Homo sapiens: one gene and its partners. The protein of the gene in region 6 purifies or fractionates together with the protein of the main gene of each other region. This does not show direct contact. Each region holds a gene or a part of one and is shown on either strand. Other genes may lie near its edges. The genes, in order: TSEN15, MTR, RAP1GDS1, OBI1, HERC1, RAB15 and PPP6R1.

The links.
Region 1: the proteins of RAB15 (region 6) and TSEN15 purify together in Homo sapiens (affinity purification with mass spectrometry; one large-scale study listed by BioGRID and IntAct). This does not show direct contact.
Region 2: the proteins of RAB15 (region 6) and MTR purify together in Homo sapiens (co-immunoprecipitation; one large-scale study listed by IntAct). This does not show direct contact.
Region 3: the proteins of RAB15 (region 6) and RAP1GDS1 purify together in Homo sapiens (co-immunoprecipitation; 3 studies listed by BioGRID and IntAct, with this or other methods). This does not show direct contact.
Region 4: the proteins of RAB15 (region 6) and OBI1 purify together in Homo sapiens (affinity purification with mass spectrometry; one large-scale study listed by BioGRID and IntAct). This does not show direct contact.
Region 5: the proteins of RAB15 (region 6) and HERC1 purify together in Homo sapiens (affinity purification with mass spectrometry; one large-scale study listed by BioGRID and IntAct). This does not show direct contact.
Region 7: the proteins of RAB15 (region 6) and PPP6R1 purify together in Homo sapiens (co-immunoprecipitation; one large-scale study listed by IntAct). This does not show direct contact.

Annotation. Positions count from the first base shown.
Region 1 is NC_000001.11:184,054,562-184,058,860, reverse strand, and holds part of TSEN15 (tRNA-splicing endonuclease subunit Sen15), read right to left. Parts: intron 4,134-4,299; coding exon 3,998-4,133; intron 701-3,997; exon of another isoform or gene 621-700; intron 1-620. UniProt on the Homo sapiens protein: Non-catalytic subunit of the tRNA-splicing endonuclease complex, a complex responsible for identification and cleavage of the splice sites in pre-tRNA. It cleaves pre-tRNA at the 5' and 3' splice sites to release the intron.
Region 2 is NC_000001.11:236,846,996-236,851,294, reverse strand, and holds part of MTR (methionine synthase), read right to left. Parts: intron 952-4,299; coding exon 772-951; intron 1-771. UniProt on the Homo sapiens protein: Catalyzes the transfer of a methyl group from methylcob(III)alamin (MeCbl) to homocysteine, yielding enzyme-bound cob(I)alamin and methionine in the cytosol. MeCbl is an active form of cobalamin (vitamin B12) used as a cofactor for methionine biosynthesis.
Region 3 is NC_000004.12:98,421,608-98,425,906, reverse strand, and holds part of RAP1GDS1 (rap1 GTPase-GDP dissociation stimulator 1), read right to left. Parts: intron 1-4,299. UniProt on the Homo sapiens protein: Acts as a GEF (guanine nucleotide exchange factor) for the Rho family of small GTP-binding proteins (G proteins) that stimulates the dissociation of GDP to enable subsequent binding of GTP.
Region 4 is NC_000013.11:78,641,733-78,646,031, forward strand, and holds part of OBI1 (ORC ubiquitin ligase 1), read right to left. Parts: intron 3,266-4,299; coding exon 3,130-3,265; intron 1,821-3,129; exon of another isoform or gene 1,294-1,820; intron 482-1,293; coding exon 390-481; intron 1-389. UniProt on the Homo sapiens protein: E3 ubiquitin ligase essential for DNA replication origin activation during S phase.
Region 5 is NC_000015.10:63,634,352-63,638,650, forward strand, and holds part of HERC1 (probable E3 ubiquitin-protein ligase HERC1), read right to left. Parts: intron 4,186-4,299; coding exon 4,060-4,185; intron 3,293-4,059; coding exon 3,154-3,292; intron 1,792-3,153; coding exon 1,610-1,791; intron 538-1,609; coding exon 382-537; intron 1-381. UniProt on the Homo sapiens protein: Involved in membrane trafficking via some guanine nucleotide exchange factor (GEF) activity and its ability to bind clathrin. Acts as a GEF for Arf and Rab, by exchanging bound GDP for free GTP.
Region 6 is NC_000014.9:64,947,721-64,952,019, forward strand, and holds part of RAB15 (ras-related protein Rab-15), read right to left. Parts: intron 3,944-4,299; coding exon 3,883-3,943; intron 3,432-3,882; coding exon 3,354-3,431; coding exon of another isoform or gene 3,223-3,353; intron 2,695-3,222; coding exon 2,605-2,694; intron 1,014-2,604; coding exon 948-1,013; intron 793-947; coding exon 634-792; 3' UTR 1-633. UniProt on the Homo sapiens protein: The small GTPases Rab are key regulators of intracellular membrane trafficking, from the formation of transport vesicles to their fusion with membranes.
Region 7 is NC_000019.10:55,231,773-55,235,440, forward strand, and holds part of PPP6R1 (serine/threonine-protein phosphatase 6 regulatory subunit 1), read right to left. Parts: intron 440-3,668; coding exon 303-439; intron 211-302; coding exon 30-210; intron 1-29. UniProt on the Homo sapiens protein: Regulatory subunit of protein phosphatase 6 (PP6). May function as a scaffolding PP6 subunit. Involved in the PP6-mediated dephosphorylation of NFKBIE opposing its degradation in response to TNF-alpha.

The DNA of each region.
Region 1 (4,299 bases), on a different chromosome or scaffold from region 6:
ATATTTAAAAGTGAAAACAGAATCGTTAATTTATGTAGATGTTTTATCACTGAATAAGTAAAAGCTGTTTTCCCTCTTAAATAAAAAGTATTTTTTCTTTCATGGTGAGTTGCCCTCACATCTTCCCACCAAATACTTTTAGGACATGTCCCAATGAATTTCTTTGCTATACAAGGTTATCAGAGACTCAACATCAATCATTTTCTTCTCTGTGTTACTAACACAGAAAAATTCCCACATTAACTATGAAAGGCTGGAATTGCAGCATTACTGTTAGATATATAACATTTTATATTATAAAATACACTAAAAGTAAAAATAGATAAAAGTATGCCTACTACCTAAAAGACTGCCCTGTTAAAGACTGAATAATGAAATCACACATACACACATATACACCCACACATTTCCATTTGTTAAAAAGTTATTTGCATAGTTTGAGTTGAGAAAATGTTATGCACTAAAAGGCATATAAATCTAGTATGTATCAGGCCTCATTTGTGCTACATTCTATATTAGTATTCTACTGTATAATATAGTTAAGAATATTTATATAAAAACAAGACATAAAGATTTAAGCTCTCTCAGTTATTAAATGCAACAGCATCAAAATGGCTTACCAAGTTATCATTCCAACTAATTCTACTTGAAGAAGAAAACAAGCTTTAGCCATTCAAGCTAGAAAAGCATTAATTACCACCTGGAAAATACTAGAAATTAACAATGGAAACAAATTTGTACTTCTAGACTTATGAAATGATTTTGATTAAAATAGGCTATTGCTTTCATTAATTTTATTTTTTAGGAATAAATGCAGGTTAATTTCAAATAGTAGCTCCTTGTCCAAACAAATAATATAACATTAATACTAGCTAGGACAATATTTGTTACAGTAATTAAAAGACAGAAGTAATGAGTTCTGAGGAATGAATTAAGACTCTTGGATATAGGATGGCTTGGAAATCATGCTAGTAAAAACCGGAAAGTACTAGCGATTAAATCTGATGTCAATGCTAACAACTATTTGTAATTCTCAAACACAGAGAAAACAGTAAGGAGCTTCTCAAAGAAGCATATGAATAGACTGACATATTAAAAAACAATTCTCATTATGAATAATAAATACAAAAAATACTTCATAGAAATCTGCAAATTTAGTTTAATATGGCTTTATGAAATATGCACAATGAAAATAACCAGTTACAGCAGCTTTAATTTAGAAGGGATCTTGCATGTACTGGTAATCTAAATCCCTCAACAACAAAATAAGACGAGGAAACTGAAACCCAGAGAAATTAGGTGTGTTGCTAAACATCAAACAAAATGTTAAGTGTCAGTCCCAAGACTAGAACCCAGGTCTTAAGACTTTATAGTCTGGGGCTCTTTCTACTAGACTGCTATGTATTCAGTCATAGTCAGCTAGAAAAAATGTTAAGTATTCATCAACGGTATTCATGCTGGAATTTAAGAGGCTCTGCTCTTTTCCCTACTTATATGCCACCCAAATAGAGCTGTGTTTTCATTTGTTCATTCTTCCCATACCCCACTCTCAGAGGTTTACAGCACCCCTTTACATGCTCAATATTACTCTCCTCCACTATCCTCTTGAATCCATCCTTCCTCATCTCTCAAGAATCTTGCTCCATCAATAATTGTCATCTCTTTTCTATTTTCAGACTTTCTGTAGGACAGCTCACGTGGCAGCTGGCTTCCTTTATAGTAAGCAAGAGAGAGTGCCCAAGATAGAAGCCACAGTCTTTTGTAACCTAATCTTAGAAGTTACATTCCTATCATTTTTGCCAAATTTTATTCATTAGAAAGAAGTCACTGAGTCCAGGTCACACTCAAGGGAAGAGAGTTACATAAGGGAGTGAATACCAGAATTAGGAGAAGCCATCTTAGAAGCTGCCTGCTACAGCTTCTAAAGAAGAAATGCATAAGGGAGGCTTGCTAACCAGATACCAAGACTTCTTACCAAGCAAGCGATTAAGAGATATGGTATTGGCAAAAGGACAGATAAACTGGCTAATGGAATATAATAGAGAACCCAGAAACAAATTAATGCATGTTTGGAACTTTGGAAAGTAGCAGAAGTGATATGTCAGATAGTGAGGAAAGGAGGGACTATTCAGTAAATGGAGGTAGAAAAAGTGGTTATCCACATGACAATGGTATCCCTAACCGCCTCTCACACCATTAAAAACAAGAACAATAGAACTCTTAGTGAAAATATAAGTATTTTTTAGACCGTTAGATAGAAAATATTTCTTAAACTAGACACAAAGACGTTGATTATAAAAGATGGATAAATATGATTATATTCAAATTAAGAACTGTTACTCATTGAAAGACATCTTAAGACAGTGAAAGACAGACTTAAAAACTGGAAAACACAATAAAAAAACTATTAGGTCAAGAATATATAAAGAATTCATACAAGTCAATGAGAAAACTAAAAACAACCCAACAGGCAAAAGATATGAACAGATATTTCTTATAAATAATACATATATAAAGAAATATTCAGTATTATGAGTAATAAGGGAAATGTAAATTAAGACCAAAATAAGAATAATCCATTCCATTGGCAAAAATTTAAAAGTCTGACAATACTAAATGTGAGAGACAATACAGCTCCAAAGGATCTTATTTACACTGCAGGTGAAAAGTAAATTGAGGCAACCACTTTGAAAATAGTTTGAAATTATCTCCTAAAGTTAAACATTAGCAACACTCCATCATCGAGGGAGTGGATGTAAAAATGGTGGTATAATCACACAATGGAATGTTATGTGGCAGCTCAAAAAATGCACAAGAATGGATGAATTTTAGTAATATAATATTAAGTGTATAAGGTCAGCCTTAAAAGATAAGATTTTTTAATTAAAGTTAAAAACATCTAAAATTTAAAAATTCCCAATGTACATGGAATTCAGAATGAGTTACCTCAGGTCAGTGAAAGCACGTTAAGGAAGGGACTTATAAGATTAGATGTTAGTTATTATCAAGAATCTAGTTTTGCTTTGGGTGATGGGTACAGAGATACTTATTACATTATTAAAAATAACTAAGTAAATAAATAAAAACCAAGCATGAACTAATAATGAGAGTATGTCATGAAACAAAGACATGTTTAATCCAATGCTGTGTACCTAAGCTTTTTAAAAAAAGGTCCTAAAAAAAGTCTCTTTTTTAAAGCTTTTAAAAAAAGCTACATGAAAATTTGATTTCAGCTTGCATGTTAATCATGCTTTTCACCAACTGCTATATAAAGTATAATTTGTATTACATGGTACATCTTATAACAGCTGTTATTTCATATGTAATGGTCTTGCTTCCTTACCAAGAATATAAATATTTCTACCATACATACTGTCTCTGAAAAAGTACTGACCATAGAGTAAGTGCTAAATAAATACTTGTTGAATGCTTGATATACTTTGTATATTTGTTCCTGCCCAAATCCCATGTTGAACTGTAATCCCCAATGTTGGAGGTGGGGCCTGGTGGGAGATGTTTGGGTTATAGGGGTAAATCCTTCATGGCTGAGTGCTGTCTTCAGGACAATGAGTTCTCGTGAGATCTGGTCATTTAAAAGTGTGTGGAACCTCCCCCTCAACACTCTCTCTCACTCCTGCTTTTGCCATATGATGTGCCTGCTCTTGCTTCACGAACTTCCTCCATGATTATAAGCTTCCTGAGGCCTCCCTAGAAGCCGAGTAGATGCCAGCACCATGCTTACTGTAAAGCCTTCAGAACTATGAGCCACTTAAACCTCTTCTTTTTTTTTTAAGAAATTACTCAGTCTCAGGTATTTCTTTATAGCAATGCAAGAATGGCCGAATACAACACTCATATTTAACTTATTCCTCAAATAGCCAAGAGTAAAGCTATGAACCCTGTATCCCAAATTTCATTAAAAGTATTACATCACTATGTTTAATGTTTCCTACTGCTTTACTCGGGAAAGGAACTTAGACCAAAATCACCTGCTCACCTGTTATGGCTGAGGGAAGCAGTGATGGGGGTAGGCACCACAGTCTGTAACCCCTCCCCTTCTATCTCAGTACCAACAAGGCAGATGAGCTGGAGTTCTGGTAATCCTACACAGTTTACTTCATGCCAGCTTTTGCCTGAAAGAGCATCATTGAATGGACAATAATGTTTATTAAATACAAAAAATAAAAACTCCAAACTTCTACCTAATACTCAGCTGAGCAAATATCACTCGTAACACTACCTCCTGTCTTTGCTTTTCTAGTAGCTTCTGTTACTCAGTAATTCCCAATGTAAATAAAT
Region 2 (4,299 bases), on a different chromosome or scaffold from region 6:
GCAAAAAGGACATCTGTGTACAGGATGAGAGCTGAAATAAGAAGGTAGGTCACTGCCATGTTTGCCCTCTTTGGGAATAATATGGGTTGGGCCACTCAAATTTTCCACCACTCTGCATATGGGTAAGTCTGAACAACTGCAGAAGTGACGTTGAGTATTGATTTTGGGGTCACAAATAAATTTCAGTAAGTACATGAATTTGCAAATATAAAATCCATAGATGATGCAAATCAAATCTACATATATAAGCAATAAATTTATGAAGAAAAGCAACAGAGTAGCGTCATAAAACTCAGGACAATAGCTACTTTATAAAATTGAGAATGAGGTGTAACTGGAAAAGGAGAGACAGACGGGGGCGCTAGCTATGCTCTATTTTGGGACCTAAGTGAAGGCTCTTATATGCTTCATAATTAATTATTTATCAGGTTCTGTGGTTTTTTTGTTTTGCATCATTTTGTTCAAGGCAGGGCCTCACTCTGTCGCCCAGGCTAGAGCGCACTGGCGTGATCCCAGCTCAATGCAACCTCCACCCTCCTGGGTTCAAGCGAGTTCATCAGGCTCTGTTATGTTCTCCAGTCTGTTTGTTACACAAGTTAAAACTCTACTAAAGAAAAAAAATAAGGTCTCCTACATTTCAGAAAAACAATTTACTAACTAAGAATGTTAACATTTCATCAGCCAATAAATATATAAGTTAGTTCTAACCATTCATTAGACCCATGGGACAAATTTGAGCCATGACTTGGGAGAGAACATGCCTACACTTACTTTAATGACTTTTGTTGCATGGATAAAATTAATGGCATACAAGTTGTGTTCCTCCATTCCAGTCCCAATGGTTAGGATATTAGGGTCAAAAATAATGTCATTTGGATTAAAGCCCAGTTTTTTCACAAGCAGATGGTAGGCCCGGGTGCACACTCTGATTTTTGTGTCTGTTTCTGTTGCCTAGGGAAAAGAGCAAAAGATGTAGTTTGAAATAGAAAAATTATCTATTAAAATATTAATATTAAATACCTGTTATTTTATTTTAATAAAATATTAATATTAAAATATTAAGTGTTATACATTAGAGCACATTTCACTCACTGAAAACACTCAAGTGTCAATGCTTGGATTTCACAGAAATCTAAATGCCAAGCAGCTTCCGATCACTTATCAAATTATCTCAGAGGAGAGACTGGTTTAAAGATCTCTTTGTGTTTTCACAAACACAGCAGCTATACTCTTTCTGCAAAAAATCAAACCTTAAACATATACACACATATGGTATATTATGAAAAAGCTTCTAAAAATACATGCATATGATAAAAAATCAAATACTACTAAAGAAGAGATTAACATGTAAGTGCCCCTTCCTCTCTTGACCTGACAGCAGTGTCACAACCTATCACCCAGGAAACACTGCCATTGCTTTCTCAGATCTTCTTGCAAAAACATTCTAAGCATATTCAAGGATATGCATTTATTCCTCACCTTCACCCATTTTAACACTGGCCTAACATGTGTCTTAAGTCATAAATACAAATTAGTCTTTACCTTCAAAATAATGTCCCTAAAAGGCAAAACACTAACTCCGGCAAGGCTCATCCCCCAGCTGCTTCCCAAAAGCCTCAGAATCTCAGCCTCCATCTCCAATCTCATCTCCTACCATTTGCCCTCTCCTCTACTCCGCACCTCCTACATTGCTCCTTTGGTGTTTTTGAAACCCGTCAAGCTTGTTCCTCCCTCAGCAACTTTCATTTATTGCTGCCACTACCAGAACATACCATGACATGGCTTTGTGCTTCACAGAACTAAGGCTTCTGCCCAAGTGCCCCCTTTTCAGAGCCTACCTTAAATCACCCTCTCTAAACCAGCCACTTCCACCCTTCCCCACCTCCTCCATTCTTCTTCGGAGTATTTCTTTCCAGAAATTGTATTATTTTGGCAACATCTTTAGTATTTTTCGTTGTTTTATTACTTGTTAATTGGTAAACTCCTCTCCCCTAGATAGAATGCCAGTCTTGCTTTATCCCCAGTGCCCTGAGCAGTGCCTGTCAAAGTAGGTGCTCAACATTATGTATGAATGCTGCTTTTACTCAAAGTATTTCTGAACTTTGTCATGGAAACTGTCTTCAGATCAAATTTACAACCTCAACACAGGGTATTCACCAAATTACATCCTGAATTATTTCTGGTTGTATGAAAAATCAAATCTACTCTTAAAAAATGATTACTTGCTATCACTCCAGAGATAAGAAAAAATAAGTCACAATTCTGAAGGTCAATTCTCAATGAACGCGAAAAATGTTCTTGAAAAATGGCCAACCCTACTGCAATCTATATTGCAGACTTCTGTGGAGATGAGGGGGTAGGGACACGGACATAGGTCAAGTGCATCTAGTGAGGCCCTAGACAACAGAAATGAGGAGTAGGGGAATTATGAAAAGAACTCTCTCTTAGATCTAGCCTTTTGATCACTTACTACTTTGGTATTCTTTTTCAACTGTTTTCTTTGGTCTCTTTAATCGCTCTCTGCAGCTGGTGGGGTGAGACTTCACCTCTACTTGGGAGGGAAGTGCCTCCAGGACTTAGCAGACAAAATGGCCCAGGGAAAGGGAGACAGGAAGTGGTCTCTGTGGCCTCACTGCACCCAGGCTTTAGGGAAGGTGGCGAGCTTTCGTCTTCCTTAATGGAATTTTCTCAATGCTTACTTCCTCTGCCTTCAGTTAGAGTGAAAAGGTTAAGGTTGAGACTGAGATGTATGTCAGAAAAAACTGGTCAGAAACAGCCCATTTGCAGCTGCCTTTAGGCTTGAACTTTTAAAGTCTACCCTTCACCAGACAGCCCAATAGAGTTCTAGGCTCTAGGTTCATGGCTCATCTAAGCTCACTAAGAGAGAAGGCACAGGGGCGACCAATGCTACTAGTATTACTGAGTAACCTAGTCTGGTTGGTAGATGAAGAAGTCAAGGTCCTGGTCATTCCTCATCTGAGCCATGAATATTATCTGGCCAAGCAGGGCAGGTTGAAGTGAACAGTATGTTACCCACAGGAGAGTAGGGTGTAGGGCCCAGCTGTATACCAAAGACAGCCCTGCTTGTGGGACAAGCAGGTGCATCCTCACAGGACAGGAATTCATTTCTAGAACCAAAACAGAGTCATCAACTCTAACCTCCATAAGGATGAAGCCCTTGTCAAATTGTTCTCATGGCGTCTAGCACAGTATCTGTGCCACATTAACAGATACTCAACCTCTGTCACTTGATTAAACAATGACTCTCAGAGTGAACACGGCATTGGTGTACAGGCCTTTGTCAGGAGCAGGTCATATCTCATATCACGTAAGGTTCACCAAGCTTCTGTCTTACTCCTCACCAGGGCTGTGGGACAGACACACTAATAAAGCCTCAATCGTGCTGGTGGATTTCAGAGATCCAGAATAGAAGTTCAGTAAAACAACGGAATGGCAGCTTTACTCCATCAGGAAGGGCTTTCAACTCTGGTTGCACATTACAATACCCTGGAGGGATTTCTGTTTGCTTGTTTTTTATAATAGTAACACCTCACCCTGAACCAGTTAAATCAGAATCTGGAGATGGGGTCTCAGCAAGTGTTTTGTAAAAGCCCCTTAGTGATGCTAATATAAAGCCAGGTGAGAACCACCAACAGGTGAGATGTGGCACCTTCTTCAGTTGGAGTAGAAGAAAAACTCAGTGAGATTCTAAGCAGCAAGAAGGAAGGAATAAATGCCATTTATAGCTTTATCAAACAGGTTTACTCTTAAGCCATAGAGAAGCTAGACTGTGACCAGTGAGTAGAAGGCTTTACTTAAGAAGCTCATGGCTCAGATTCTGCTAAAATATCACACACTCAGGCAGTAATGCAATAAAACAATTTTTGATTTGGTCATCAAGGCAGACACTGTGAGGAAGAGAAGGACAATGTGTAGAAGACATCTAGATTCTTTAATGTAGTCTGACAAGGAGCAGAGATCGAACAGGGCTAACTTCAGAGGTGAGTTAAAGTTTTAAAATCGAACTGAAGTAGTTGAAGATGGGCGAGAGAACCCTGGAGGAAGCAGAGGCCCATCCTGGGGCTGTAATTAAAAAAAGAAGTGGCCCGGCCCAGTACAATGGCTCACATCTGTAATCCCAGCACTTTGGGAGGCTGAGGCAGGTGGATCACCTGAGGTCAGGAGTTCGAGAACAGCCTGGCCAACATGGTGAAAACCCATCTCTACTAAAAATACAAAAATTAGCCAGTTGTGGTGGCAAAGGCCTGTAGTCCCAGCTACTTGGGAGGCTGAGTCAGG
Region 3 (4,299 bases), on a different chromosome or scaffold from region 6:
TTTGGGTAGAATGTTCTGTAAATATCTGTTAAGTCCATTTGTTCTAGGGTATAGTTTAAATCCATTGTTTCTTTGTTGACTTTCTGTCTTGATAACCTCTTTAATGCTGTCAGTGGAGTATTGAAGTCTCCCACTATTGTGTTACTGTCTATCTTGTTTCTTAGGTCTATTGGCAATTGTTTTATAAATTTGGAAGCTCCAGTGTTTGGTGCATATATATTCAGGATTGTGATATTTTCCTGTTGGACAAGGCCTTTTATCATTATATAATGTCCCTCTGTCTTTTTGAACTGCTGTTTCTTTAAAGTTTGTTTTGCCTGATACAAGATAGCTATTCCTGCTGACTTTTGGTATCCATTTACATAGAATGTCTTTTTCCACCCCTCTACCTTAAGTGAGTCCTTATGTGTTGGGTAAGTCTCTTAAAGGCAGCAGATAGTTAATGAATTCTTATCTATTCTGCAATTCTGTATCTTTTAGTGGAACATTTAGGCCATTTACATTCAATCTTAGTATTGAGATGTGAGGTACTATTCCATTCATCATGCTATCTGTTGCCTGTATACCCCCCACTTTTTTTTTAATTGTATTTTTGTTTTGTAGGTCCTGTGAGATTTATTCTTTAAAGAGGTTCTGTTTTGATGTGTTTCCAGGATTTAAGATTTAGGGCTCCTTTTGGCAGCTCTTGTAGTGCTGGCTTGGTAGTGGTGAATTCTCTCAGTATTTGTTTGTCTGAAACACACTGTATCTTTCCTTCATTTATGAAGCTTAGTTTCACTGGATACAGAATTCTTGGCTGATAATTGCTTTCTTTAAGGAGACTGAAGATAGGGCCCCAATCCTTTCTAGCTTGTAGGGGTTCTGCTGAGAAATCCACTGTTAAGTTGATAGGTTTTCCTTTATAGGTTACCTCGTGCTTTTGCTTCACAGCTCTGAAGATTCTTTCCTTTGTCTTAACTTTAGATAACCTGATGACAATATGCCTAGGCAATGATCTTTTTGCAATGAATTTCCCAGGTATTCTTTGAGCTTCTTGTATTTGGACGTCTAGGTCTCTAGCAAGACTGGAGAAGTCTTCCTTGATTATTCTCCCAAATATGTTTTCCAAAAGTTTTCTTTGTTTTTTTTTTTTTTTTGGAGACAGAGTCTTGGGAGTCTTGCTCTGTCACCCAGGATGGAGTGCAGTGGCACGATCTTGGCTCACTGCAACCTCCGCTTCCCAGGTTCAAGCAATTCTCCTGCCTCAGCCTCCCCAGTAGCTGGGATTACAGGCGCACGCCACCATGCCTGGCTAATTTTTGCATTTTTAGTAGAGATGGGGTTTCACCATGTTGGCCAGGCTGGTCTGGAACTCCTGACCACAATGATCCACCTACCTTGGCCTCCCAAAGTACTGGGATTACAGGCGTGAGCCACCGCACTCAGCTGGTTTTCTAAACTTTTAGATTTCTCTTCTTCTTCAAATGCCACAGGTGTTTGAGTTTTTTTTGTGATTTTTGTTTTTTTAAGCTCATCAGCTATTGTTAGTGTTAGTGCATTTTATGTGTGGCCCAAGACAATTCGTTTTCCAATATGGCCCAGGGAAATCCAAATGATTGTATACCCCTGCAAACCAATGGTGGAGATTCTCTTGGAGTAGAGCAAAAAGATTAAGGGTAATGACTCCAAAGAGCATGGGCGAGTGGGCAAGTTTAGGGAGTGTTAGCTGCACCTCTTCCTATAGTGTTTTATTTTGTTGAATGGCATGATAACCCAATCTGGTGGTAAACCCCAAACTTGGAATTAGCTCTAAAACTACCTCCTCCTTTAATTCTACTGTTGAATCTGTCAATTCTACCACCCATATTTTTCTCAGGTCTGTCTCTTCTTTTCCATCCTCGCTGCTTCTAGTTGAATAACCCATATGAAATTTGTTTCAAAAATGGCTGAATATCAGCAATTTCAAATTGCTCAACTCAAAACCTTAATTCAGTCCTTTATCAACTCTCATATATATTTTTGCAATAACTGTCCTTTCTACCCCCATTAAACCCTAGAGACATCTTTCTAAATGAAAACTAAATGGCTGGGTGTGGTGGCTCACGCTTGTAATCCCAACACTTTGGGAGGCCGAGGTAGGCGGATCACCTGAGGTCGGCAGTTTGAGACCAGCCTGACCAAAATGGAGAAACCCCGTCTCTACTAAAAATACAAAATTAGCCGGGCATGGTGGTGCACGCCTGTGATCCTAGCTACTCAGGAGGCTGAGGCAGGAGAATCACTTGATCCCGGGAGGCGGAGGTTACAGTGAGTGGAGATCGCACCATTGCATTCCAGCCCGGGCAACAAGAGCGAAACTCTGTCTCAAAAAAACCCCGAAAAAACAAAAAAACAAAAAATAAAGAAAACAAAAAAACCCTCAAATAATGGCAACTTGCTGCTTAAAACCCTTTAAGTGCTCCCGAATTCTCTACAGAATCAAGTCCATATATCTTAACTTGGTATATAATTCACTTAATTCCCAGTTTTCAACCTCTCTGGCTACTGTCTCTTTCTACACTCTGTGTTCTAGCAATACTGCTTTATTTGCAGTTTCTTTAAAAAATTATGCTGTTTTACATCTCTGTGCTTTTGTACATCCTGCTGTCTTTGCCTGAAAAGGCCCTTTCCTTCATTCTCTTTCCCTTTCCTCCTGAGATTCCTAGTTAACGCCTAAAATAGCACTCCTTCTATGGCACCATCCCAGATTACCCAGACAGTGTGTTAGTCTTTCTTTCCTCTGTTACACCCGAATAGCATACGTAGCTTTAAAGCTGTACTTAAGCTAGCTGTTTTTATTTCTGTCCCCTCAACGGATAGTTAATTCCTTTATAGAAACACTATTTTTTAGTATTTACACTGCAAGAACTCAAATATTAACTGTTAAATGAACAAATGGGCGTGAGAGAGCAGTTATGATGGAGAAGGGGTCAAAGGGGTACCAAGGAAGCCATTTTGCTATTCTCTCCTGACAACTTCCACCTTGCCAACATACTGCTTGGTCCTGTGTCAGGAAAAATGTATGAGCTTTTAGGGTGGTCTGGGTGAGACAGGTAATAGGAAGGTCCTAGTTAACAGCTGCTTTTCCCCAGGGAAAGTTCTCAAGATTTAGCATCTGATGGAGAAGAACACTCCTGAGGCTTACCAGCTGGGACAGCTATTATGGTGAAGCCAATTATTTATATGAAAGAGATTTATACAAGAACAGCTTTAGTTTTACGTTTTTTCTCTTGGCATCTTCTTCTTATCTGTTCTAAAAATAAATGAAAACAGCTGGTGGATTTGAGTTCTAAACTTTCTCCTCATATATAATCACTACTGAAGTTGTACAAGAGAAATGACTGAAAGGGTCACCTTAGAAAACAGTATTAAAGGCTGGGCATGGTGGCTCATGCCTGTAATCCCAGCACTTTGGGAGGCCAAGGTGGGAGGATCATGAGGTCAGGAGTTTGAGGCCAGCCTGGCCAACATGGTGAAACCCCATCTCTACTAAAAATACAAAAATTAGCCGAGTGTGGTGGCGCCTGCCTGTAATCCCAGCTACTCTGGAGGCTGAGGCAGGAGAATTGCTTGAACCCAGGAGGTGGAGGTTGCAATGAGCTGAGATTGTGCCACTGTACTCCAGCCTGAGCGAGAGAGCAAGACTCAGTCTCAAAAAAGAAAAAGAAAACAGTATTTTATTTTATTTTGAGACGGAGTCTTGCTCTGTCACCCAGGCTGGAGTGCAGTGGTGCAATCTCGGCTCTCTGCAAGCTCCGCCTCCCGGGTTCACGCCATTCTCCTGCCTCAGCCTCCCGAGTAGCTGGGACTACAGGTGCCCGCCACCACGCCCAGCTAATTTTTTTTTGTATTTTTAGTAGACCCGGGGTTTCACTATGTTATCCAGGATGGTCTTGATCTCCTGACCTCATGATCTGCCCACCTCAGTCTCCCAAAGTGCTGGGATTACAGGTGTCAGCCACCACGCCCAACAAGAAAACAGTATTTAAAAAATTTAAAAATCATATAATCTAGATACTAAATCAGCTGCTGAACTGCTGGCCTGGGTACTCACTATTGTGATCTTTAAAATAGCTCATTTGTTCATTTATTGGTTATCTACCATGTGCCAGACAGCGGCACAGCCAGCCACAAGAATGGATTTTTTTCTAACTCTGTGAGCTCTGGACATCATATACTATCTAGGTACCATTTAATTTCTAAATATCAGTAGGCTGCATGGTCAATGCCTGGCACAAAGAATGTTTGACACTGATGCTGATAACGGTGGTGGTAAAAGTA
Region 4 (4,299 bases), on a different chromosome or scaffold from region 6:
AGAGGTCAGACTGGCTTTCACAAGGAGATTTCCTTTTTCTCCCAACTTCTTGAGGAAGCAAATACAAAATGATATGTCTGTGGAGGTACAAATTTTAACTTAAAAAAAAAAAAAAAAGAAAGAAATGCTTCCATCTGTTCCTTTTTTCTGGAATCCCATTCCCCCATTCCTTGGTACTTAAAGAAAAAAAATAAAACAAAAAATCTCTTTCCTCTATTTAAAATACGAAAGGAAAAAAGAAAAAAGAATTTATCAAACAATTTCTTTTTATAGGCTTTTAAAATAAAATTTCATTGGATATTTACTCTAAGAAGTCTGGGGACTGAGGTAGGTCAGTTTTTACCTTGAATTCACTGCTAACATAATTTTAAACTTTGATTACTGTTTACCTCATATTCTTTGTGTAGTAATTCAAGTCTAGTTTTCCGAAGATGCTTCCTGACCGTATGGCTTAGCATAGGTTCACTTTCACTTGTTCCTCCTGTAGGGAAAAAAAAAAAAATCCTAATTTTTCATTCTGATTCGGGAAGAATGAAAATGATCCTTTTTCATATTGTTTTATATAGCTTCCCAGCTTCACATCTACCCTTCCCCTTACATACACACTTGGGGCTTACATCTAGGCCTTTTCTCTACCCTAATCTTGAGGAAAAAAAAATATATCAAATAACACCATAAGAAATACCTTCAGTAACACATCATATTGTATTTACATATCTACATATCTTATCACAGCAAACTCAGTGGAGGAAAGGGCTGTAATTATCACATTTGGACTACTTCAAATTCTGAAAACTAGACTATATTTAAATAATAAAACCAATTATTACATTTACATTTAACCAAGAGATTATATAAAAATGTATTACTGGCTGGGTGCAGTGGCTCACGCCTGTAATCCCAGCACTTTGGGAGGCCGAGGCGGGCGGATCACGAGGCCAGGAGATAGAGACCATCCTGGCTACAGTGAAACCCTGTCTCTACTAAAAATGCAAACAAACAAAATTAGCCGGGCGTGGTGGCTGGCGCCTGTAGTCCCAGCTACTCAGGAGGCTAAGGCAGGAGAATGGCATGAACCCGGGAGGCGGAGCTTGCAGTGAGCCGAGATTGCGCCACTGCACTCCAGCCTGGGCGACAAAGCGAGACTCCGTCTCAAAAAAAAAAAAAGTATTACTGCTATATACCTATGTATATAGATTAATGTGTCTTTTCACGGATTCTAACAGGCTAGTTACAATGGACTGTAAGTCATGGCATTAACTCTATGTCATGACTTGTTACAAATGCACTCACAATGAATTCTTCCTGAGAGCTCTTCACTGATGCTCTGGTTACCTTCTTTGTATTTTTTAGCATTATAATAATAGCAAAGGTATTTTACAGGTGTTCTTTTTCAGGATGTTCTATCCAAATGCAAAAATGGATGAACTATTTTCCTTGAGAGAATTTATGAAATATCACTTAGGTATGAATGAATAAAGGTAGGATATGGGATGAGAAGAAAAGCTGGGGGAAAATATTCAAATCATCAAAGCTCATATTCTGCAAGAAAAGACTTGACTCCTTGGTGAAATTCAGCAGGTAAAAAAAAACAGATAGAGGTTAACCCCGTAGCATGCAACACAGCAGAGAACCAGTCCTCTACCAGACTTCACCCAGGTACCAAGAGCCAACTCTGATTGCGCCTTCAGATCTCTTATTTCCTAAGTCCTACTAGTTCTTCTTTTGCTCTGTAGCATATATATTCCTTTCTATTTCCTTTGTAAAAATCTTGGCTGGGCACGGTGGCTCACGCCTGTAATTCCCAGCACTTTGGGAGGCCAAGGCGGGCAGATCACCTGAGGTCGGGAGTTCGAGACCAGCCTGACCAACATGGAGAAACCCCGTCTCTAATAAAAATACAAAATTAGCCGGGCGTGGTGATGCATGCATATAATCCCAGCTACTTAGGAGGCTGAGGGAGGAGAATCGCTTGAACCCAGGAGGCAGAGGTTGCGGTGAGCCGAGAACGCGCCACTGCACTCCAGCCTGGGTAACAAGAGCGAAACTCTGTCTCAAAAAAAAAAAATCTTATTTAAGTCCATTTTCCCTAACTTGGGACTATTACAATGACTTCTTAAGTTTTCTGAAAAATGTTTTCTATACTTGGCTAATTGTAGATTCACTTTCAATTTTTCCTATAGCAAAAACAAGTAGAAATCATTTTAATTTTTGCAACCTAAAATAAATAACTTATATGAGTAGAATAAAAACCAAACTCTAAAAAGGCTCTTTAGAAGTTCTCCTTTTCAAGGATCCTCTAGTTCAAGCTTTACTCCTCCCCCACCCCACCAATATTAATGTGACATAGAATTTGTTTTCACCCTTAATCCAAACTTACATTTTCTATCACCTAGGCAAAAGCCTCCTACCAGACCTACTCACATCCTGTCTACTCCTATAGTCCAACCTATGTATTACCACAAGTAATATTTGTAAAGCACATTTTGGATCATACCACTCCCTTGCTCAAAACCATCATGCCCAATTCACCCTTCTTCTTAGTCCTAGAGCAAGTCCCTGATTTAGCTGTCATTCAAGGTTCTCTGCACTAAAGTCTCAATTTACCTTTTGTCTTATCTCAGTAGTCGGACCCAAAGTAGACTACTGATCATTTCTAAAAACATGCTCTGGGTTTTCCTGTATCTAAACTTTTTAGTTCATGCTATTCTCCCTGCAGGAAATGCCCTCCTTAATTTTCACCGTTGAAATGTTATCCATCCTTAAATTTAAATGTCCAGCTTAAAGGCCACCTACTTTATGAAGCCCTTCTCGGTGTTCTTAGCTGAAGTTTCTTGCCTGAACTCTCTGGGCTTTTTTGGGGCCCTTAGCACTTGCTGCTTTTCTTTTGGTTCAGTTGCTATGAAAATGTAAGTTCCGTGAGGCTCTCAGGGTTATTCCTCTTAGCACCTCTCAGTGCCTTGTGCCCCAGTTGCTCCACATATACATTACACAAATTACTCAACCACTCAGTATTATGTTGGCCAAATAGCATCACTGAAAATAGCCTATTTCAGTCTTCCTCGAAATATAAATTATTTGGAGATTGTTTCAAACCTATTCCTATGCATATATAAAACAGGCCCTTACCTATAATTTCTTTGCAAGGATTTTCAGGAGTGATGGGGACTCTGCAAGCTGGACACTGGCTATTATTCTTCAACCACAAATCAATACAAATCGAACAAAATACATGGTTGTTGATGCATATGACAGGCTGACGTACCTTTGAAAAAAGAAATCACTTTTAGTACAGGACAACGGTCATAATTAGAAGATCAAATGGTTTAGTTTACAGCAAACTGCTTCTCTAGATTATAGCAGAGTAGGAGTTTAAGAAGGGATATCTAGCGCTTTTAAAAACACTGCTTCTGTTGGTCACTTTTCTTTTTACACATGTTTAACAGAGATACTAGATGAGATACTGGATCATGGAGACTGAAGCTTTTGACATATAAAATGCTTTATTTTGTACCTAAACCACAGAATTCATGCCAAAAAGAAAATGCTTTTTGTTCCACTAAGGCTGGGACAATTTTGCTCAAACTCTTCTATTTTAGCATTATAGAACAGCAGGATTAGGTTTTTGAAAATATCATTTAGCACAATCATCCATCTGATGCCCGAATCCTTTTCTCAATTCATTCCACTGTTACAGAATAACAGCAACTATTAAATATTGTATTGATACTTTACTAGAAATTCCCCAAAACCAAACAGTAATGAAAGCTAAAACAACCCAAAAGGCATGAGCTTCACTCTCAAGTAGTTTATAATCTAAACAGCAAACAATGCAGACAGAATTACTGAGATACACCAAATACACAAATCTTTGACTCCAGGCTCCATTTAAACAAGCACAAATAATAATACCTTACATTTATAGCATTTTTTTTTGAGACGGAGTCTCGCTCTGTTACCCAGGCTGGAGTACAGTGGCACCATCTAGGCTCACTGCAACCTCTGCCTCCTGGGTTCAAGCAATTCTCCTGTCTCAGCCTCCCGAGTAGCTGGGACTACAGGCGCCTGCCACCACGCCAGCTCATTTTTCTATTTTTAGGAGAGACGGGGTTTCACCACATTGGTCAGGCTGGTCTCAAACTCTTGACCTCAGGTGATCTGCCCACCTCGGCCTCCCAAAGTGCTGGGATTACAGGCGTGAGCCACCGCGCCTGGCCTGTAGTCATATTTTACAAACGGCTTTCACATGCATCTTTCACCGCCCCAACCCTTTTCCATCTCTTTTTTTAAAAATACCAC
Region 5 (4,299 bases), on a different chromosome or scaffold from region 6:
TTACTACTTAGGAGCAGTAGCTACCAGTGATGTTGCAATTCAGCCATACAACTCAAGGATACCAGACAGGAGCTACTAGTATCTGTATTTTTTAAGGGTTTAATAGCAAGTGGTATTAGTATGTTATGGAGGGGGCTTTAAAAATATTCACGTCCTGAAATAAGGGTTACATTTGTTGGTTTGTCACATAAACAAACTTAAATTGACTTAAAATATGAATTTCACATTGGGAAACAGTTAAAATTATCAATTAGACCATAGCAAAATGTACATGAGGTTAGGTACAACTGGTGATCCTGATCTTCCTGAGGGTGTCTAAGCGAACACAGAAGAAATGAGAAACAATGATCAGCTAGAATATCTTATTGATTTATTCCATGCCTGTCCAATCTGATATCCCTCCAGTGCAGTCACTCTCTCTGGAAGTTTTTTGTTAGAGGTATTTCCAAGACCCAGACGACCATAGTCACCATTCCCAAAGGTGAACAGTTTGCCATCTGAAGTGACCACTGCTGAGTGCTTGAAGCCACAAGACATCTAAGACAGAACCAAGGAGAAAGAAAATTTTTAAGAAGGGAAACTAAGAAAAAAGTAAATCTGCCATTTTTGGTATTAATATAGCAATAAACTTTACATAAACTTCACTGAAAACTGGATCTTCAAAGACCAATGCTTTTAAAAATTTTTTTTTTTAATTTTTTTTTAAATTTTAAAGAGACAGTGTCTTGCTCTGTCACCTAGGCTGGAGTGCAGTGGTGTGATCACAGCTCACTGCAGCCCCAAACTCCTGGGCTCAAGCAATCCTCCCACCTCAGCCTCCCAAGTAGCTGGGACTACAGGCATGTGCTACCACACCTGGCTATTTATTTCTATTTTTTGTAGAGACAGGGTCTTGCTATGTTGTCTAGGCTGGTCTCAAACTCCTGGCCTCAAGCAATCCTCTTGCCTTGGCCTCCCAAAGTGTTAGGATTACAGGCATAAGCCACTGCATCTGGCCAACTGGTACATTTATCTGCCCAAGTTGCTCTCCTGCTCTCCCAAGTCTGATCTGTCTCAACAGCCTCAGGAAGCCCAAGCTGAACAGCATACCCTGGAGTAACTACTGCTACTCTTCAGCTGTGTACACATGACCTAGACTAAATGAGATAATAAATGGGGAAATTGTTTGTAAACTATAAGGTGCTATACAATCTTACAATATGATTTTAGAACACTATTTTCCAGAAAATGCATGTTAACTTAGCTTTTGTAACATAAATGATAGGTTAAAAGCAAAGTTTTCCTTTTATCTGTGTATTAAGAACTGTGTGGCAGAAGTTAAACCACACAATATTCCTTCCAAGGGCGTGCAGCACCCTAGTCTGGGCCAACCAGCTGGCTCACGAAAAAGACCATTCTAACCAATACTAACAAGACCAATACTAACACCAAAGCCTATTCAAACTTCTGACAAGCTCAAGAATGAATCTGAACATCCAAAACCAATGGATCTCTTATAATTACTGTGTAATATATTTTTACTATATTTTCTGTTACCTAATTTTAAGAAACCTATTCAACAACTAGTATATTTACAATGAAAGGCAAACTTATCCATTTCCTGCCTGACCTGCACCACTTCTTCTCCTTGTAAGGCCTCGATCTGCCTGGGCCGCCGCTGCCTGTCGCTGTTCCCATGGCCAAGTTTACCATAGTCACCATCTCCCCAGCTAAAGACCTCACCACTTTCAGTTAGGGCCATAGAGTGCCCATCAGAACCACAGGAAGTCACCAGCTGGGTCACCACAAAGCCTGGAACAGAACAGAAACCCAACAGGAGTCACTGGATGTTAAAACTCTCCTCTTTACTTGCAGCTGCTACTGAATACCCTCAATCAAAAACCACCGAATTGGTACTATGAAAATAAGAATAATTTCATTAGTTTTTTTTTTTTTTTTAGATGGAGTCTCACTCTGTCATCCAGGCTGGAGTGCAGTGGTGTGATCTCGGCTCACTGCAACCTCCACCTCCCCGGTTCAAGTGATTCTCTTGCCTCAGCCTCCTGAGTAGCTGGGATTACAGGCATGTGCCACCATATCTGGCTAATTTTTGTATTTTTAACAGAGACAGGGTTTTACCATGCTGGCCAGGCTGGTCATGAACTCCTGACCTCAAGTGATCCGCCCACCTCGGCCTCCCAAAGCGCTGGGTTTACAGGCATGAGCCACAGTAACCGGCCTAATTTCTTTAGTTTTAAATTGAATTTGTAGCCATAACCTAGCAAAACTGCGAATAGTCACCTAAAATAATGGTGATGACAAGGAAAACGAGGATGACAGCAATAGTTACAGTCATTAATGACTGGCTATGCTCTAGCCACTCCTATAAATGCTTTACATGGATTATCTCATTTTCTACTTTCACATAGCACCTATGAAACAGATACTAACATCCCATTTTTACAAGTGGGAAAACTGAGTCACAAAGAGGTCTCGAAGCTTGTGCAATGTCCCAGAGCCAAGGACCAGTAGAACCCATAGGAACCCAGCACACATTCTCATCTTTACTGCTGTGCTCTTCACACTCAGATCACAATGAAAAGAACCTGAGCTTCTAGGAACTTGTTTTGAACTCATAGTTACTTGTATGCTTTTACCTAAAAAAACCGTCGGTGCTCTCTTTGTAGGCTTCAGAGTCATTATGAGTTCAGTTAATGAGCAAGCCGGGGGCTTGTACAGTGGTTTCTCCAAAGGTGTTCTCTCTCCAAGTCACAAAGAACTCTGATGAAGATGTCCTTTAAAGTCTTTAGCACATTTGCAGATTTCCATATAAACTGATTTTTAATTTTAATGAAATACATGCATGATTGCTACTGCTATTAACATCTGCCTACTTACACTTTTGCAATTTTTAAGCATTTGTTTACAATCTTCAGTGGGTCTCAAAAAGTGTTATTTATATTTCACTGAATTCTAGCATTGCTATAAGTAACCTGCAATATAGCTTAAAATATGGAAATTAAGGCTGCACACATGCCTAAATAAGGATTTAAATGTAAGTGAAAACCTGATATGATTTTATCTAGCAAAGGTTTGAGAAGGGCAAAGGTTTGTACGACCAAACCTACATTAGGCCTTAGGTTCTAACCATCTTTTTATTAAGGACAATTTTACCTTGTAAGGCTGAAATAACTGTCAGCACATGAAGGTCATCTGAATTTCCTTGTCCTAATCTGCCATAACTTCCTTCCCCACAAGCCAACACTGTGCCATTGGCCTGGATGACAAAGGTACAATTCTGACCACAAATGACCTAGTATAAAAACACAGAATTAAATATTTTATTCTTTATTATATTGCTTTAACATGCAAGCACTTGAAATGATTCCACGTATACATAGAATGCTTTTATAATTGTTTTATCCTTTTACTGAAAGGGAAGAGTTGATATAACTATGCAGTCCCGTAACTCCTTGATGACTATAAAACTGCTTATTTAACCAAGAGATGTATGAGATTCATCCATTTAAAATAGTTTAGAACAACAAAATGGATGAAAGAAAAAGGAAGGGGTGATGGGGAAACATTAAAGACTGGGCTAGAAAGAAGCAGAAACTCGTACATAAGAATGAGTCATGCAATCTGGACTAGCTGAGGTAAAGAAGAGCAAAAGAGAAAGCAGAGGCCTCGAGAAGGGTTTGGCGCTATATCGTACCAGGATTATTAGAAAAGGGGAGTGGTCGATAAAATCTGGCTAAAGATCCTAGGAAGTTTTTAGCCCCAAAGAGAAAATCACTAATTAGGAGTATCTAAACTGCTAGAAATACATACTGGGCAGGCCTAACACATCATGATGTTAGTTCATTAAACTTGAAAGAAAAATTTAGAAATTTGTTAACTTCTTAAGTCTGATAAAAACCACACCAAGTTTTTATTTGAAAGCTATATATCATGACTTTCTTTAATGATTCCTCATAATAGATTATGAAATGGACAAGCTTTATCCCACAATAAGACAAGCAAAAGAATTAGAATTTTCAGTTCCCATGTTTCTTTTCTATTTTTTATCCTGTTAGTTACCTGTTGGGCCTGTGAGAATGAGGGAGCTGCTGCAGGTACCATTACATTTCTTCCAGCTTCTGCCAGCTGTCCATGCCTACCAGCACCCCATAAGTAGACATCACATTTACCTCCCAGGTGCCAGTCCTAGAAAACCACAATCATCTCAAAATTAGAGTCATCCATTCACTCAAACAGCCATGTACTACGTACCAAGTGTGTGCCAGCCTGTATGGGAGACACCAGGGCACAAACACACAA
Region 6 (4,299 bases):
ACATGAGGGACAGTGGGGGTGGGGGAAGAGGAAGAAGCACCCTGTAGCCTTTGGCCCACCCACGAGGCAGGGTGGAGGGTTCTTCCTGGATCCAAGGGTGGAACCTCCCCACGAGCCTGGGTCCATCCCCTTGGATAGCTTAGGAAGGAAGGAAAGAGCGAGCTGCACACAGCAGGACACACGGGGGACGGGGTTTGAGGAGCTTTGATACGAAACGCACCGGAGGGGAGGGGTCAGAGAAAGAGAAGTGGGGGAAGAGAGAAAAAGCAGAGAAGAGACACGATGCACGGAGAAAGGAGCAGCTGAAAGTGGCCTGGACTCCAGCCCTGGCTGTTGTCTGGTGGGTGCGGGATGGTGAGACAGTGCTTGCGGCACATCGTGGGGGTCGTAGCAGGCCTGTGGCTGGGGAAACAGGCTGAAGAAGACCACTCCAGGGTGGACGGGCTGGGGACAGGGGCTGCTTGAGATGACAGCAGAGCCGCTCTCAGGGCCAGGCAGGGGGAGTAGTGGCTACTGATACTCAATAGGGTCATCACACGAGAGGACAGCAGCAGGGCAAAGCCCCGGCTCCCCTGTCTGCCCACGGGCCTCCTGAGGGAAGAGGGGTGTCGTGTGGGGTGCCCCACACAGGACTCAGCACCAGCAGGTTTTCGAAGAGTTCGCTGGGCCCTCGGGTTTGCCCTCCTCCTCCTCCAGCTCTGCCAGTGCCAACTCATTGCTGGCACGCATCCGGAGGCCTTCCAGCTCCTTCCTATGGGCCTGCAGCACCAGCTCTGTCAGACGCGTGAATGACTGGAAACCAAAGGGCACAGGTTAGTCCAGTGTCTCCTCCTCTCCCCTGGCAACCCTGCAGCGGCCTGAGGGATAAGGTCCATCTTATGGCTCCTCCTCCCACCTCTGCTGGACTCAGCCCGAGAGAGCGGGCGCCTGGTCACCAGGGCTCTCACCTCTTTAATGTTGAGGTTGGTGCAGGCACTTGTTTCATAGAAGTCCATGCCATACTCCTTCGCCAGCTGCAAGAGAAGGACATTTCTGAAAGAGAGTCAGTAAGGCAGGGGAGGGGCCCATACAACCAGGCACAGGCTTCTGCCACTGCACTCACAACCATGCTGTGTTGTGACGATTTCTCAGAGTAGATAATTTCTCAGATGGGACTGGGAGCTCCAAGAGAGGGTAGCAGAGAATGGGGGAAGATCCTCCACAAATATGCCTCTCCATTCTTCCAGCTGCCACCCCACGCCTCCCAACACACAATCATATATCAGGAGATAAAGACACCATCCATTGTGGCAGTATGGCATCCTCGTAAAAAACATGGGCTCTGGAGTCCCACAGTCCCAGACCTGAATAGCAGCACTGCCACTGATGGCTAGCTGTGTGACCTTGGACAAGTTGTACATTCTCTGTAAGCCCCAGCTTTATCTTCTGTTAAAGGAGACTGAGTGTGTCTCCCATCCATGGTTGTGGGATGATTCAGTGGGGTCGTGCACTTAAAAGCGCTTGCCTTAGCACAGTGCCACACATAGAGTGCTCAATAAATACTATCCTAGTAGGCTTTGCCTCTACTTTCAAATTGGTCAATGACCATGTCTTATATTTTATACCAAACAATCAATTTCATTTTAAGTACTAATGGAACGCTATTGACTGAAAAGGGAGAGGAAAACTCTTGAGGTCCACGGACTGAGTGGATAACTTATCTCAGAAATACCAATCTTGGCTGGGCACAGTGGCTCACGCCTGTAATCCCAGCACTTTGGGAGACTGAGGCAGGTGGATCACCTGAGGTTAGGAGTTCGAGACCGGCCTGGCCAATATGGCAAAACCCCATCTCTACTAAAAATACAAAAAAATTAGCCAGGCGTGGTGGCATGCACCTGTAATCTCAGCTACTTGGGAGGCTGAGGCAGAAGAATTGCTTGAACTCAGGAGGCAGAGGTTGCAGTGAGCCGAGATGGCGCCACTGCACTCTAGCCTGGGTGACAGAGCGAGACTCCATCTCAAAAAAAAAAAAAAAAAGAAAGAAAGAAAAAAAAAATAACCAATATTTCTTTCTGCTCTCTGGGAGGATGGTCTCCCTGCATGCTTGGACATTCCCTCAGCGTCATCCTCCTACCCTTTCTGCCCCCATGGCTTCTCCAGCTGTGGCTCTTTGTCTCCTCATTTGCCTCCCTGGCTCTTTCCTGGGTAAGAAGGACAGGAGTGGGGGAGTGTTGGGTGGGATGGGAGATCATTTCTCGACCGTAACATGGCAGCTAGGCCTGGATGCTGTCAGAGAAGAGGTTGACAACTTGAAGTCCTTCATTACTAACACGGGGATGATCTCTTAAGCAGAGGGCAATCCTGCATTTGGGGACCTGGACTTGGGAGAGTTGCTGCCTATGACGTCTTTGTTTCTGGATGGACCCCGAATCTCTGGGCTTCTGTCCTGAAACCCAGACAACAAGCCTTCCGAGGATGGCCACTCCCCCAGGGCCTTGGGGTGCTGGGGACGTGTGGGAGGACCTGCCACTGGGGAACACACCCCTAGGTCCCCACGCTCAGGACTGGCCCTGGAGGCCCAGCAGAGGACCTGGGGTGGACTTGCCTTTTCCCTCCACTTACCTGCTGCCCTTGCTCTCTTCCCACCTGCCGTTTCTGCTCCTCATCAGCCTTATTCCCAATAAGGATCTTCTGGACGCCTTCTGGTGCGTACTAGGGACAAAGGATGGGCAGAACAGCCAGTGAGTGCTGCCTGCCCCCCCAATTTTCCCTACAGAGTCTGCACTGCCTCCAGCCCACCACCAATTCCAGAGCCCTAGGGACAGGGTGGGCCGACTGGATGCAGGTGCCAGGCTCCCCCAAGTGCCATGGCTGACCTCAAGGGTATCACGGGGAGAGCTTAGGGTAGAAGACACTCTGGCTAAGACTGGTGCTTCCTTGGGTTAGACCACTGGTATCAGAGCTGGAAAGGACATTGGATGTAAGTCCAGCCCTCATTCTACAGGAACTGGGGACCCAGAGGATTCAAATGGCTTCCCAAGGCTCCACAGCTATTGTGCAGAGCCAGGACTAGATCCCAATCTTGCAACTCCACCTGGTCCCAAGATTTCAGGAAAGAAGCTGCTCACAGGGAAGACTTGGAACTAATTCATTTCCGGGAAAGACACAGCCGTGGAGGCCTGGCAGGGTATAGAGAGTGAGGGCATGGCAGCTTCGGTTTCTTCCCCATGTCTTACTCACCCAGAGGTCTTCATCCAGGGCTGTGGAAGGCAAAGCTTCCTGGAAGCATTTGCCTTCCCATCTGGCCCTCGCCTTGCCTTCCCCGGTGAGGCACCCTCTCCACACCCCGGCAGTGAGGTGGCATCTCCTACCTCATCCACGTCACTGACCCACTTCATGATGTGCTGGTAAGAGCGCTCGCTGCTAATGTCATAGACCAAAAATATCCCCTGAGAGAGAGAGAAATAGAGAGATGTGATATGCACAGAGAGAGTGCAGTCATGGGGCCAGAAGGGGCCGTGGAAACTTAAAGGTTGGGTCCCACTCTCCCATTCTCCCTGCTCAGCATCCAGAAATATCTCTTCTCTCAGACCCCACCACTGCCGCCTCCCAGGCCCATCACAGAACTCTCTACAGCAGGAAGACACCACATGCTTTGACCTGGATCTTTGACCCAGGATGGAGGGTGGAAGTCAGGGGTGAGGGCAGGGGCCTGCCTGCAGTGAGTGGGCCATGAACAATGGACGGACAAATGATCAGTGAACAGCTGAAAGACGCCCTGCGCTCCTCCAAGCAGGCGAACTGTATTTAGGGGATCCGTGGCACAGACATCTCAAATACCCAGAGCTGGGAGTGTGGGTGGCAGCTTCCCACTTTGAAACCCCCAATGTGGTGGCTTACCTGGGCCCGCCGATAGTACTGCTTTGTGATGGTCTGGTATCTCTCCTGCCCTGCAGTGTCCCTGCAGGAGAAAGCCAGTCCCTCAGAGGAGCAGGGACCATGGGAACAGACGGGGAGGGGAAGAGCAGAGCTGTCCCCTTGTAGGAAAAACTGGGGAGCTAAAGGGTGAAAAACCAGGGATGCTTGGATCCCCACAGGGATCTGCAGTCAGAGGCCTGGTCATCTGTGCTGGTGCTGACCAGGCCTGCAGGGCCTTGGCCCCTCCTGCCAACTGCCCTCCTGGCAGAAACCAGAAGCCACAGCCAGAACAGGCCTTGGACAGCTCTCTGGAATCTGGCCACTGTGGCCAGATTTGGTTGGATGGGAGTTGGCAGGGGATGCTGCTACACCCCTAGTCCCTATGGGACCTCTGAAGGC
Region 7 (3,668 bases), on a different chromosome or scaffold from region 6:
CCATTTAGCCCGTTCCATCCGGTTCTCACCTGAGCTGCAGGGCGTCACGGGCAGGAGGGCTGGCCAGGCTCTGAGTGGGGAGGCCCTGGGGCACACTGAGGGGCCCCTGTGGGGCTGGAGGCCCAGTGTGCAGCTCTTCCTCCCCGGAGACTCGGGGGCTGGTCGGGGCATCTGTAGGCACTGGGTCAAAGGTGGCTGTCCAGCTGGGGCCTGGGATAGAGGTGGGGGAGCGGGATGGAGGGTGAACTCAGTAGCAGGCAGACAGCCCTGTGTACACCTGACCACACCGCCCATTCATTCACCTGGAGGCTGAGGGCCAGGGCTGGGGTAGGACAGAGGGGTGGCCCCTCCACGGGCTGCACAGCCAATGCCCTCCTCGTCTTCCTCCTCCTCCTCGTCCTCCTCTTCTTCGTCCTCACTGTCTGTGCTGCCTCCACTCCTGCCCCAGAAACCACCTCGTCAGCTAGCTGTGTGGGACAGACCGGCCGACACCCATCCTGTTCCCTGCAGCCCAGGGTCAGCCCAAGGAGAGCGGGCTGGGATGACAGGCAGGTCACAGAAGGGTCCAGGGAGCCTGGGGTGTGACGACACCAGGAGAGGCTGGGAGAGGGAGTTCTGAGCCAACGGCAAGAACACAGGCGGGCAGGGACAGAATGCGGCCGTAAGGAGACCGTCCGTCGCCAGTCATCCGTGGAGGGCAGGCCCTGGGGAAGTGGGCTGAGCCTCAGCCATGGCAACCAGAGCAGACAGACCCACTCACCAGCTCTCAAGCCACCTCCCAGCCGTCACCTCACACGGTCACCACAGTGACAGGCCTTCCCACCAGCAGGCCCACCCTCTGGACAGAGGCTTCACACTACTCTCTCCCTCCAACTAGAAACTCCAAGAAGGCAGAGATGGCTGAGTTTTGCCACTGCTGTATCCTCAGCCCTGAGAAACCACCAGGCACCCATAGCTGCTCCAAAAACACTGGCTGAATGTTGACTAACACACACCTGTGAGCATGAAGAAAATCCAAGCAACCTACGTGCTGATCAACCGGGGAAGGGGTAAGCAAAGTAACACTAAAACTAAGCTTTAACAACGAGGGTGCACTCTGAAAAACGCCATCATTAGGCGATTTTGCTATTGTGTGAACATTCTAGAGTGCACTTACACACACCTGGATGGTGGCGCCTCCTGTACACCTAGGCTCTGTGGTATAGCCTATTGTTCCTAGACTACCGACCTATACAGCATGTTACAGTACTGAATACTACAGGCAATTCTAACAATGGTAAATGTTTGTGTATCTAAACATAGGAAAAATACAGCAAAAATAGAGGATTATAATCTCACGGGACCACTGTCATATGTGGTCCATCGCTGACCCAAAGATGCAGTATGGGACTATATACTATGTCTAAAATGCTGACCCAATATTTTTGTCTTAACAGAGTAACTGACTACTTTAACTGGAAAGTAATATATCTGTATATAGTTAAAAGTAAACTAAAATACTCAACGACTAAGGAGTATAAAGGAAGCCCCTCAACCTAACATAAGGCATCTACAAAACCCCACAACTAACAGCATGCTTACATGGCAAAACGCTGAATGCTTCCCCCTAAGATCAGGAACAAAACAAGGATGCCTGTTCTTGCCACTTCTGTTCAACATTGTCCCGGAGGCTAGCCAGGGCAACCAGGCAAGAAAAGGAAATTAAAATCATCCAGATTTGAAAGGAAGGAAAATGAACTCTATTCACATGACATGATTCTGTACATAGAAAATCCTAAGGAGTCCACTAAAACTATCAGAACTCATACATTAGTTCAGCAAGGTTGCAGGATGAAAGATCAACATACAAAAACCTATTGTATTTTCATATACTTGTAACAATCTGAAAACAATTTCAAGAAAATTCCATTTACAATAGTAACAGAAAGAAGAAAACAGGAATAAACTTAAAAGAAATACAAAGCCTCATACTCTAAAACCTACGAAACATTGTTGAAAGAAATTTTAAGACCTATATAAAAAGACATCCATGTTCACGTATTAGAAGACGCAAGGTGGCTTCTTGGTTGAAATTGACAAGCTGATCCTAAAATTCATATGGAATCTCAAGAAATCCCAAATAGGGCAAAACAATCTTTAAAAAGAAGAACAAGGTTGGAAAACTAAAACCTCCCATTTTCTTTTTTCTGTGAGATGGAGTTTCGTTCTTGTCACCCAGACTGGAGTGCAATGAATGGTGCGATCTCAGCTCACTGCAACCTCTGCCTGCCAGGTTCAAGCGATATTCCTGCCTCAGCCTCCTGAGTAGCTGGGATTACAGGCACCCACCACAGCCGGCTAATTTTTGTATTTTTAGTAGAGATGGGGTTTCACCATGTTGGCCAGGCTGGTCTCAAACTCCTGACCTCAGGTGATCCATCCACCTTGGCCTCCCAAAGTGCTGGGATTACAGGTGTGAGCCACCGTGCCCAACAAACCTCCCATTTTCAAAACTTACTATAAAGCAACAGCAACCAGGCCAGTGTGGTACTGGATAAAAACAACACACAGACTGATAGAACAGAACAGAGAGGGAAGAAACAAACTCATACATATGGTCAAATATTTCCTTTTTACACAGGTGCCAAGATGATTCAGTGGAGAAAGGACAGTGTCTTCAACAACTGGTGCAGGGAAAACTGGTTATCTATATGTAAAGGGATGAAGGTGGACCACCTCACATCATATACAAAATTTAGCTCAAAATGAATGGAAAACCATAGAAATAATGCTATAAAACTCTTAGAAGAAAAGAGAGGGCTAAGTCAAGATGCTGGATTTGGCAGTGACACACTTGTGCACCAACAACACGTGCAAGGGTATTCACAGCGGCCGCACTCACAGCGGCTGCACTCACAGCAGCGAGCAACAGGAACCTGCCCAAAGGCCTGTCAACTGCAGAACAAGCAATTCAGCTGCAGCTCATCATGCATGGCACTGCCCCACTGCACGAGAGCCAGGGGCACCCAAACACACAACAGGGAAGGAGCTCACAAGCAGAGTGTTGAGCAACAGAGGTCAGACATAAAAGGAGATGCTGTATGCTATATCAAGTGAAAACAGAGACAAAACTCATCTACAGGGTTAGAAGCCAGGACAACTTTACCCTCAGAAGGGAGGATACTGGCTAACAGAGGGGATGTGGGTACTGGGAAGGTCCTGCTCCTGGGTCTGGGCACTGAGGAAGGATATCCATTGGCCACACACTCAGGATCTGTATGTACACTTGTCTATACGCATGTTACATGTCAATAAAAAGTGAAAACAGCCTAATTCCGAAATCAAAAGTCATGAGTCAAAAACTCAGTTGCAGATGATGACTTAGTGTTCAGGCTGTCAAATCTACATGGCATGAACCCATTTCATCACAGCGACTCTGGGGCCGGCCAGTATTAAGAGAAAAAAAAAAAACAATGTAACATTTGCACTAAAATGTCATCACAGCCTGATTGGAGAGGGACGTCATCATCTCTCATTTTACTGGAATTAGAGAAGAGAGAAGCTGCCTGGGACCATCTTACCCCCCTTTCTAGGAAAACGTGTGAGAGCTAACACGAGGAAGTGAAGTGAAGGGATGAAGGAAGGAGACAGGGAGGCGGGAAGAGAGAGACACACACAGACCAAGCCAT